3 linked regions of the Homo sapiens genome follow. The protein of the gene in region 2 purifies or fractionates together with the protein of the main gene of each other region. This does not show direct contact. Each region holds a gene or a part of one and is shown on either strand. Other genes may lie near its edges.

Region 1 (3,726 bases), on a different chromosome or scaffold from region 2:
CAAGGTCCCTGGGCAGTCCCAGGATGGGGACGTAGGCTGGTACCCAGACCCTGCCTGGCATCTGCCATGTTGTTTGAACATAGTGCTGCCATCTCCAGCCTGCACCTTCCCGACGCTGCCTGTCTCTGCCTTAGGGAGGAAGGGCCTGTGCCCCAGGGTTCAGCATCCTGGCTGTCTCTGCCTCCCTCACTCCTGCCTCCTCTCCCACTCCCAGGACCTGGCGACTCCCCTGGCCTTTGCCCACAACCCGTCCCGGGTGTGGGAGTTCTACCACTACCGGCGGGAGGTCATGGGGAGCAAGGAGCCCAACGCCGGGCACCGCGCCATAGCCGAGTGTGAGACCCGGCTGGGCAAGCAGGGCCGGCGAGTCGTGGTCATCACCCAGAACATCGATGAGCTGCACCGCAAGGCTGGCACCAAGAACCTTCTGGAGATCCATGGTGAGAGACCCCCAGCCTCCCATTCAGGGAACCAGCTTTAAAACACCTGTCCTGCTGTTTCAGCATCACCTCTGGTGCCTTCCCTCCCTCCCTGCTGGACATCCGTCCTGTCCTATAGGATGCTGTGGCATTTCCTTTGGGGACATGTTAGTGTCCCGTGGCACCTGGGCAGCTGCCTTTGGCCATGGGAGGAGCCCCTGACCCACTAACATTATTCACTTAGCAGTTCCTCCATCCTCGCTGCTCAGGGTGGTCTAAGAGCCAGCAACATTTGGCGTCCCCCAAGAACTTGTTAAAAATGCAGAATCTCAGGCCCCATAGGCCCCACTGAATCAGAATCTGCATTTTCCCATGAGCCCAGGTGGCTGGCGTGCTTTTTATACTGGAGGAACGCTGGGGTGCACAGCTGCGTGACCCTTTCCTCTGTGGAGGGGCACGGTACTGTGAGACAATGGCCTCAATGAGCTGAGGAATAAGAGGCCTGGCCCATTGGACAGCTGGGGCTTGAGCAGGAGCAGACTGCAGCATCTTGGGGTCTCCTGTCACTCCCCCTTCATCCTGGTGGGCACTCCCCACTGAGGCTGTGCTTCTGCCCCGCCCTGGAGCCTCAGAGAGCTGCCAGCTCAGTGCTGGACACTGCACCAAGCCCACCAAGCCTGTGATGTCGGTGGACCCCACTGAGGCTGTGCTTCTGCCCTGCCCTGGAGCCTCAGGGAGCTGCCAGCTCAGTGCTGGACACTGCACCAAACCCACCAAGCCTATGATGTCGGTGGAGTTTGTCTTGGGTCCCTCTGGGCTCCTTCCTCTGTCCTGGGTAACCCCTCACCCCTTCACTCTTGTCTTCTGGCTCCTCCCTTCTTTGCTGTCACCACAAATCTAAAACATCCACTTGTCCACAGTCATAATGGGCAAACTAGGGTTTCCCCCAAGGCCATTTGCATTTAAAGAGTCTGCATTCAAATCCAAGGAATGCATTTCTTATTTTTTAAGCATTTATTTCTCTTAATTTAATTTAATTTAATTTTTTTTTTTTTTTTAGCAATGGGGGTTTCACTCTTGCCCAGGCTGGGGTGCAGTAGCCTGATCATAGCTCATTGCAGCCTTGAACTCCTGGCCTCAAGGGATCCTCCCACCTCAGCCTCCAGAGTAGCTGGGACTACAGGCACATGCCACCATGCCCAGCTACTTTTTAAAATTTTTGTGGAGAGTGTCTCACCATGTTGTCCAGGCTGGTCTCAAACTCTTGGCCTCAAGCAGTCCTCCCTCCTCAGCCTCCTAAAGTTTTGGGATTACAGGCTTGAGCCACTGTGCCAGCCAAAAATGCATTTCTAAGTGTAGCATTTCCAGAAGCAGTGCACCAGTCGGGGGTGTTTGTTTTTGCGTGTGTGTGGTGAAGCTGCCTGCTTTTACTTAGATCACCCTGATAAGGAAAGCGAGGCACTACTCATTTCGACTGTGTCTGTCTTTTGTTCATCAGGAACAGCCAGCCACCTATTAACCGAGCATCTTTTTGGTACCTACATCTGCTGGGTCTGAGCCACTTTCCATGTGCCTCTGCTGATTTCCCTGCAGTGTCAGAATGTGGGCTATGTCATCAGCATAAAACCGAGATGACAATGCCTATCTTATAGAATTGTTGTCGGGATTAAATAAGATCATATATGTGTGTTAGTCAGGACTTTTTAAAATTTCAAACGATGAGAACTCTCTTCTAACTTAGGTTAAAAAAAATCAATGGCATCTTCAGTCTGATGAAGGGTTTTTTTTAAGATGCATCATGTTTTTAATGTGGCATTTAGAATATAATCTGCCTAAACCATGATATACTATTTTATTATCCCTTAGAATTATTCTATACTTAGAGAAAGAGCTTGTTAAAACTTAGACACGTTCTTTAGAAATTATATCTTTCCAGGCATACATAAAGTATGAGTATGATAAACTGGTCCAAATATTTCTCATTATCTAGCTCTTCTAAATGATTCTGAGTGACTCAGAGCACGGATGTCTGTGTTTTCCATGCAGTTTCATGCTCTGTGTCTCGGGAGATGGATGATGCAGCGTTTCCTGAGAGAATGCCCCTCTGTTATAGCTGGGATTCTCATCCAAGCTCCTGACACACCTTCCGCAAGTTCGCTATTGGGCCTGACATGTTCTTACCAAAAGGCATCAGTGGAAAGGCTGTAGACAACAGCCAAAACTTGCTTTCCTTCCTGAAGTGGCCCTTGAAGGGTTTGTTGGCGGAAGGATCCAGGGGCTGAATCTGCCCGGTCAGGCCACGGAGAATAACAACAAAGTCACCCCATTTTTCAGTGTTCTCCTTCAACAAGTCTGTGCAAGCATGATGATGATGTTACAGTCTCATCTGGCCAGTAGCAATTGTAGGACACATCTGAATTTCAGAGATGTGAAAATGGGGAAAAATGTCTATGCTAAAACTGACAAAGTAGGTTTATTGGCTCACAAAACTGAGGAGCCTAGTGGTGCAGCTTATGTCATCTTTCCTCCCGGCCCCTGTCCCCCTCCTTCTTTCAGCTTTGCTCACTCTTTGAGGTGGCCTCCCTTCTCTCTCTGCAATTGATCTGTCTCCACGCGCCAAGGGAGAGTGCCTCCGACGGCTCCAGCTCAGCCACCTGCTCAGAAAATAAACCTCTGGGTAGGCTTGCTTGGTCCACACGCCCACCCTTCTGACCAAACACGACTGCAGAGGGATGGACACCACATGGGGGCCGTGCGCAGCATGTGGCTGAGCTTGTATTTGGGATGTGACCCACAGCCCTATTGGCTCAGCATGCGAGAGAGCAGGGATGGTGCTCCCCAAGGAAGGACTGGTGGGCAGGACGGAGCAGCGCATGTCCACTAGGGTTGAAAGTGCTCTGCACGGCACCAGTTGCCTGGTACCCATTTCATAAACTGTGGCCACCATGATTGCTTCAGCTCAATAAGTGGTGGTTAGTATTAACAATTACTTTTTTCACTTATTAGTTGATTACTTATTTATTGAGGTGCTTTTGTATAAAAGATTCAAGCTTTCTGAAATCGAAGTTAAAATTTTGTAAACATATCCCACGCCATTGAACCTTTGTCAGTCATGTCAATAAATCACGCCCTTAGATTTAGGTTGAGCTCCCTCTACCCTATTGGCAACTTCTGCCCACTTGAACACCACTCCAAGGTCATCTGATGGCACATTAGTCATGGAGTTATTTATTTTTCCTCCAGATTATAAAGTCCTTGAGGGCATATGCTCTTGACTGGCTTAAGAGTACTGCATGCCTCTGTTTCC
Region 2 (4,420 bases):
CTGCCTGGTCTCCCTAATAAAAGGATTATTAGGCCATGCTGATTATTATCTAAAAGAGCCTAGTGGGAAGGGAATTGGTTCTCAGGTCATTTGAGGTCATACCAATATCACTAGATGTCAAGGTGACACATCATATTGGGCCTCCATTTTTGGCTTTATACCACAATATGGCTGACAGCATCCAATATGCTTCACATATTCAAACAGGATCCAATAATAACACAAAATGACCATGGTTCCCATTAGCAGTGGTAGTCCCTAATAATTCTATGAATGCCTCCTTGCATTACTCCACATCCATGCAAAACCACATGTAACTTCAGATATCCATGGTCTTATTCCACTTCTGTGCTACAATGGCTTACCCTTCAGCAACACGGACCAACTTCCATTCACCTAATACCATTGCCATTTAAAGAGCAGTCCTGGATGGGCATGGTGGTTCACACCTGTAATCCTAGCACTTTGGGAGGCTGAGGCAGGTGGATCATGAGGTCAGGAGTTCGAGACCAGCCTGGCCAATATGGTGAAATCACATCTCTACTAAAAATACAAAAAAAAATTAGTGGGGCGTGGTGGCACGCAACTGTATTCTCAGCTACCGGGAGGCTGAGGCAGGAGAATCACTTGAACCTGGGAGGTGGAGGTTGTAATGAGCCAAGATTGCGCCACTATACACCAGTACACCAGCCTGGGCGACAGAGTGAGACACCGTCTCAAAAAAAAAAAAAGTCCTGTTTTTAATCCATTTAAGGCCCAAGACCTACTGTCACAGATGACCATATTTCTCCCTGAGCATATTCAGCACGTGTAATGAAACCCCCCACACACTACCAAAGTCATCTCAAATCTTGATTGCACAGAGTGGTGAATAAGTACCACTCTGGCCTAAGTGTCATCTTCCCTCAATTTGACTACACTTCTGCATATATCTATTTCATGTCTATTCTCTCCTTGAAAGTCTATGTCCCCTGTCAAATTATGCTGACAGGTATACCCTACCATCATGGTCACTTACCTACCTCTCCAGTGTTTAGGAAGCCCAGTAACATTACCCAGGGACCCAAGCAACAGATGCAGTCCTCATCATTCAACCACTGCTTTCTGGTCCCCTAAAAGATTTACCACCAGAATCTGAAGTGTGTTCTCCTTAATGTGACCCATGGCTCACTCACCATAGCATACACATTAGCTACCATATATTAGATGTCTCCAGTGTCAATCCCTTTCCAGATACCCCAACCTGCATGTCCATAGCCATTTGATGCCTACACTTATTCGTCTCTGACTCTTCATATGGCCATAACAGTCATCCTGATATTTGCATAATATTCTAATTATGTTTATTACCAACATGCTCATCTCAGCTGATGCAGCTTCCATAGCTACAGCTACTAAGACCAAAAACCTCGGGATCCTGATTGCTCTCTTCATGCCCTTACTTTGTGTATTAGGAAACCTAGATGCTGTAACAAAATATCAACTTTGAATCCAGCCACATCTCCTTAGCCATGAATCTTAGTCTGTTAACCCTCACTTGGATTACGGCAAAAGCCTCAACTCTCATCTTATTTCCTCCTCTCTCAACCCCACAGTCTGTTCTCCACTGTACAGCCAGAGGAGACTACAGCCAGATGAAACTGTGGCAACATCACCTCCTCCCTCTGGTCAGTTTCACCTCTAAGCATTTCACATCCTGGTACTAACTCCTGGGTTAACCTTCCAAGTATGTTTATACTGGTTGACAGAAATGGGAATACCTCCATATATCCTGTGTCACAGACTTTGGATCCTGGGTTTAAGGTTCCTCCAGGGTTCCCATATCAAAAAACTTAAAAAAAAAAAAAAAAAGGTACCTAAGAATCCCAGGACATCCCAATCTAAAGAGCATGTGGATAGGAGTTAGGGCCAGTGAGGGAATAACACCCTCCGCTTCCCTGCGGAGGTTCTGCAAGTGCTTCTGCAGCCAGGAGTTCCTGAGAGGAGAGGCACAAGCTACAAGAATGTATCCCTGATGAGATTTGATAAGCTCAGGCCTCCCTGAACTCTTTCTTGGCCCTGTAACTAGGTAAACGCGAGTTGGTTGTCTGAACTGAGCGCCTCAGTACAAAATGTCATCTCTTAGCACCTATCTGATCTGTAGAGGTTGAACAAGAATTCAACCTCCCAGGGCCCAAAAGTCATCCCCTGTGTTCTTTTTCGACTGGACTTTGGGAAACCTTTAAAGCCTGGACATTGATCTTTTCCTTCCTTTGTTGGAAGCTGTCCATGGCTTCCAGCGTTCTCAGGGTGAATACACGGTCCTCAGCCTGCTCTTCCAGGAGGAGCTCTGCCTCACACTTTGCTCCCGACAGGTGCCTGTGGACCCTAGGTTACGATCCTCTCGGCTCAGTTCATCTCCAGGCCTTTGCCTGCACCGCTCCCTGTGCCTGTAGCTCTCCTGAGCGCATCCCGCGGGTGTCAAAAACGGGGGCCCATAGAGAGCGCCTCAGTGTCCCGACGCCGGGTTCAGGGTGTAAAACCTTGAGCAGGCGCCGCTTCCTCTCTGCTTTTGGACTTAGGTAAAGATGAGGTGACCTGAGGGCACGGAAGACGCCACAATTACCTGAGCCGGGGGCCTCAGCGCGGCCGCCGCCATCCGACTGGGTGGGGAAAGCGGGGTCGAAAGGAGGGGGCGAGCAGTGCAGGTACCCGGGCACGGTGGTCCCGATCCCGGCCTTGGTGCGGGTCACGCCTAGCGCCTTTAAGGAGCTGCAGAGCAGCCTCTGTGCAGTCGGGACAACGTCTCGTCTCCACCTTCTGGGTTCAGTCACTTCTACACGACCCAACACTCCGCGGTCTCTCACTGGAAAATACACCCAACACCAATCAAAATGGCCACTAGTAGAGGACGCCGGAAGTCCCACCTTTATACTGTTTCCGCGGAAACGCCTTTATTTTGAGCCCTCATTGGCTCTGACGCGCTGTCATTCGACGCAGAGATTTCTGGGTTATGTAGTTTCCTCAGGTTCCAAGACAGTTCCAAGGCGGTAAAGAAGGCCTTCTCAGAGGCGCTTGATTGCACAGAGTGGTGAATAAACACTACTCTGGCCTAAGTGTCATCTTCCCTCAATTTGACTATACTTCTGCATGTATCTATTTCATGTCTATTTTCTCCTTGAAAGTCTATATCCCCTGTCAAACTATGCTGTCAGGTATACCCTACCATCACGTTCACTTACTTGCAGGAAAGGCCCAGCTCCATCTCAGCGGCCTGTCCTTAAAGTGCATGTCCTTCTAGGGTAGAGGATAGTCTCACCTAGCCTTAGAACCCGTATTGAGATTTTTGGAGATTAGTGTCTGTAACTGATCACTCAAGTATTTGAAAAAATATTATTTTAGATTTTGGGGAACTCGAGCTCTCCGATGCTAAACTTATTATTTAGGATGCCCCCAAAGACTAAAAATCCAAATTATCATAACGTTTTGAACAGTCTTTCAGTCGCAAAATCCCGGTACTGGCAGCAGAGGCTGATAAACATTATTGTGTTATAAATTCACATGAATGCACTCTGAGGCATTAGAGTCAGTTTCTCAGTCTGTCAGGGACAAGAGAGAACTAATCCAGATAGGACAAGACAAGGAAGATAGAGGAGAAATGTTGTGTTCCCTAAAGCAGGAATACATGCTGAATCTCTGTCTGTGATTCCCACAGAAGACAACTCTCCTGCCTATAAAATCAATCATAGTGTCCAGTACATTGAGCAACACTTTTATCCACTTAGTATCCCTCGCTTGAGATTCCAACTTATATTCAATTAATTCTGGATTAATTTATCTAAGATTTATCAATCTTACAGGAAGACCAATGAAAGAAATGCTATTTTGGTAGTGATAAATGGCTGCAGTTTTCAAAGGTGGGGCACGTATGCAGAAGATGCTCTCCACCTGTTGATATTGGTTGTGTCTTAAATCCAGGAGTTCATGTTATTGCTGGGAAGTGGCTATTTTTTTTTTTTTGTATTAGATAAAACAGACTTTATTTATTTCTTTTCTTTTTTTTTTTTTGTGACTATTCTTTATTTCTGTTTCCATGGCAAGGAGTGTTTTGCCTAATAAATTAATGTTATGGATGGGATTACAGGCATGAGCCACCATACCTGGCTAATTTTGTATTTTTAGTAGAGACGGGGTTTCTCCATGTTGGTCAGGCTGGTCTCGAACTCTCAACCTCAGGTGATCCACCTGTCTCGGCCTCCCAAAGTGCTGGGATTAAAGGCATGAGCCACTGTACCCAGCCGCTCAGTTCTTAAAAAACCTATGTCTTCTATGTTCAGGGAGAAGAGGCATTTAGAGCAAGAGCTTACTCATTCTCCATTTCTGCTCAGAAATAAAACTTGCTTGCCTTTTTTTTTTTTTTTCCCAAATTGGGTGTTCTTTT
Region 3 (3,500 bases), on a different chromosome or scaffold from region 2:
TCTTACCCACTATCCTATACTAGAATCACTTTAGGAGACAACATTTTCTAGTAGGGTACTTCTAATCACTTCTCTGTGGAAGATGCTCAACAGAACCTTCTCTCCAAACACCTTATCCCAGCCTTAATCAGGCCTCTGCATTTAATAACCAAAGGCCAACACCCCAGTCAAATGACCAAGTCTTATACTTGCCTGTCAAATGGAACATCCACAAGAATCCTGGAATTGGTTAAGGAGAGAAGACAATTCTTCTGTAACTTTTAGAGAATAAAGAAAAATAATTTTGAACAAATGTAACATTCCATTCTAAACAAAGATTCCATGTATTTGGAAGTATTACTAGTGAGCTTTTCTTATTGAGAGCTCATTTGTGTACCAGCATTAAATTTTCATTTAATGCTGTAACTGATGACTGCCATGCAGGAATGAAGACTTGAGTAGGATTTTCCAACTTTAAAAATAAGGTAGAAATAAATGAGGAAAACCACCTTCCTAACTGTATTTTTAAAAAATCAACTCCCTTGGCCGGGTGCGGTGGCTCATGCCTGTAATCCCAGCACTTTGGGAGGCAGAGGCAGGCGGATCACGAGGTCAGGAGATCGAGACCAACCTGGCTAGCACAGTGAAACCCCGTCTCTACTAAAAATACAAAAAATTAGCCGGGCGTGGTGGTGGGTGCCTGTAGTCCCAGCTACTCGGGAGGCTGAGGCAGGAGAATGGCATGAACCCGGGAGGCGGAGCTTGCAGTGAGCCAAGATTGTGCCACTGCACTCCAGCCTGGGCGACAGAGCGAGACTCCATCTCAAAAAAAAAAAAAAAAAAAAAACTCCCTTTACAAAGTACACATTTGTATTAGATTTCACAAATTTATACCCCTGTGTAACCACTCCTACAATCAAGATATAATACTTCTATCACCCCCAGAGAGTTCCATTGTCCCCTCTTCAAGTTAGTCTCAACCCTGTAAACCCTATCCTCGGAAAATTACAGTCATTATAGATTAGTTTTTTTAAGGTGTTATGCAAATGGAATCATGTACTTCTGCTCTTTTGAGTTTGGCCTGTTTTGCTCAACATATAACATTTTTGAGTTTCATCTACACTGCAGATATCAGTACTTCATCTCTGTGTGCCAAGTAGTGTTTCCCTAAATAGATTTATTACAATGCTTCTATTCGCCTGTTGTTGGACATTTGGGATGTTTCAAGTTTTTGGCAATAAATAAAGGTACCATGAATATTTGTGTAAATATCTTTATATGGATACATGCTTTCATTTATCTTCAGTAAATACCTAGGAGTGGAATGACTAGGTAGTTTATGAAGTGTATATTTAATTCCTAAAGAAACTACCAAAGTGTTCAAATCTTTTGATCATTTTTATAACTGATTTGTACTGTATTAACAAGTTGAGTTCTTTATATACTCTGAATGAAGTTGATTCTCATATATATATAATGAACATGTTTCCCAGTCTATCATCTACCTTTTCATTTTAAAAATGTGTGTTGTGGGGGAGGGAGCCAGGCATGGTGGCTCCCTCCTGTAATCCCAGCACTTTGGGAGGCCAAGGCAGTGGATCACCTGAGTTCAGGAGTTCGAGACCACCCTGGCCAACATGGTGAAACCACATCTATACTAAAAATACAAAATCAACCAGGCATGGTGGCATGCGCCTGTAATCCCAGCTACTCAGGAGGCTGAGGCAGGAGGCAGAGGTTGCAGTGAGCCAAGATCGTGCTACTGCACTCTAGCCTCGGCAACAGAATGACTCCGTCTCAAAAAAAATAATAAAAATAAAAATGAGTGTAGGCCAGGCGCGGGGGCTCACGTCTGTAATCCCAGAATTTTGGGACACCAAGGTGGGCAGATCATGAGGTCAGGAGATCGAGACCATCCTGGCTAACACGGTGAAACCCATCTCTACTAAAAATACAAAAAAAAAAAAAATTAGCCAGGCATGGTGGCGAGCGCCTGTAGTCTAAGATACTCGGGAGGCTGAGGTAGGAGAATGGCACGAACCCAGGAGGCGGAGGTTGCGGTGAGCCGAGATCATACCACTGCACTCCACCCTGGGCAACAAGAAGGAAAATCTCTCAAAAAAAAGAAAATTTTAGCCTCACTGCTTATCTATATTTCCTATTTTTTCTATAACAAACACACTCTTTTATCTATTCTCTTTCTCTAATAGGATGAAAAACCAGAACTAAATAATATCTATTTTTCACATATTTATCCTAAAGTTAGAAAACACAAATTGTCTGCCGTATGCCATGGCTCATGAGGCCAGGAGTTCGAGACCAGCCTGACCAACATGGTGAAACCCCGTCTCTACTAAAAATACAAAAATTAGCTGGGCGTCGTGGTGCACGCCTGTAATCCCAGCTACTCAGGAGGCTGAAGCAGGAGAATTGCTTGAACCCGGGAGGCAGAGGTTACAGTGAGCTGAGATCGTGCCACCGCACTCCAGCCTGGGCGACAGAGAGAGACTCTGTCTTTAAAAAAACAAAAACAAATTGTGCCACGGCACTCTGGCCTGGGCAACAGAGCTGAGACTATTAACAACAACAAAAAAAGCACAAACAAATATTCAATTGAAATTACCTGCTGGTAATGGGGGAAATTTTTCAGAGCCTTGAAAAGTAGACAGGTGACCTCTGACAACAGGCGAACAGGCATCCCCTTGGCCAGGCCCTGGCGTGTTAGGTTGAGAGCGCAAGCACTGGCTGTGAACTGCACTCGCAAATCCAATGGGTGATTCCTCATTCCTATAGCCACAAGCTGAAGATGAACTTGTTTTTAGTGCATATGATGCCAGTAACATTCTCTATGCTGTCTTGTGCATGTTTTGATTGGCACAAATCTTCGTTTATTGGGACAGGAACAGATTTTCCCTATCCTAAGCATTTATTCTTTAGAACATCAAAGTATTACAGCAAAGCCTTCTAATCCAAATGGAGTCACTAACTATCTGTGTGACTTTGGCCAAGTCACTTCCTTTCTCTAGACCTCTATTTCTTTATCTGTGAAATTAACTTCAGAATCATTTATTGAGCCTCACTCCATACAAGCTACTGTGACAGGTACTGCAGGGGACACAAACATGAGTGAGAGCTACTCGTTAGCATAAAGCCTTGTGACAGTAATAACACTGTGAGAAATGCCAAAAAATAAAATTGAAGAAAAGCACCATAAAAGACGCATCAATGAAGTGACATCTGAGGTAGTTATGGAAAGAGTGGCCATTTCTGGGAGAGAATCAGAAGAACTCATTGAGAGAGCACATTTAGGCAGAGTCTCAGGATTTACACAGGAGGAGATAAATGTAGGGGCAGAATGGACAGGGTATTCCTAGGGGAAAGAAAGTGATAAAGAAAAACAGAAAGTGGAAAAAAAGGATGGGATAAATCCACCAACAGAGGAGAAGAATTTGAAAAATGGTAAAACAAAACATTAGGTAACTTGAAGCTACACTGTGGAAGACCTAGAACACAAATGTAAA

What was found.
Region 1: the proteins of ZNF776 (region 2) and SIRT5 purify together in Homo sapiens (affinity purification with mass spectrometry; one large-scale study listed by BioGRID and IntAct). This does not show direct contact.
Region 3: the proteins of ZNF776 (region 2) and ZYG11A purify together in Homo sapiens (affinity purification with mass spectrometry; one large-scale study listed by BioGRID and IntAct). This does not show direct contact.

What each region holds. Positions count from the first base shown.
Region 1 is NC_000006.12:13,591,455-13,595,180, forward strand, and holds part of SIRT5 (NAD-dependent protein deacylase sirtuin-5, mitochondrial), read left to right. Parts: intron 1-214; coding exon 215-440; intron 441-3,726. UniProt on the Homo sapiens protein: NAD-dependent lysine demalonylase, desuccinylase and deglutarylase that specifically removes malonyl, succinyl and glutaryl groups on target proteins.
Region 2 is NC_000019.10:57,745,277-57,749,696, reverse strand, and holds the start of ZNF776 (zinc finger protein 776), read right to left. Parts: upstream 2,883-4,420; 5' UTR 2,639-2,882; coding exon 2,606-2,638; intron 1-2,605. UniProt on the Homo sapiens protein: May be involved in transcriptional regulation.
Region 3 is NC_000001.11:52,863,260-52,866,759, reverse strand, and holds part of ZYG11A (protein zyg-11 homolog A), read right to left. Parts: intron 2,780-3,500; coding exon 2,603-2,779; intron 258-2,602; coding exon 193-257; intron 1-192. UniProt on the Homo sapiens protein: Probably acts as a target recruitment subunit in an E3 ubiquitin ligase complex ZYGA-CUL2-elongin BC.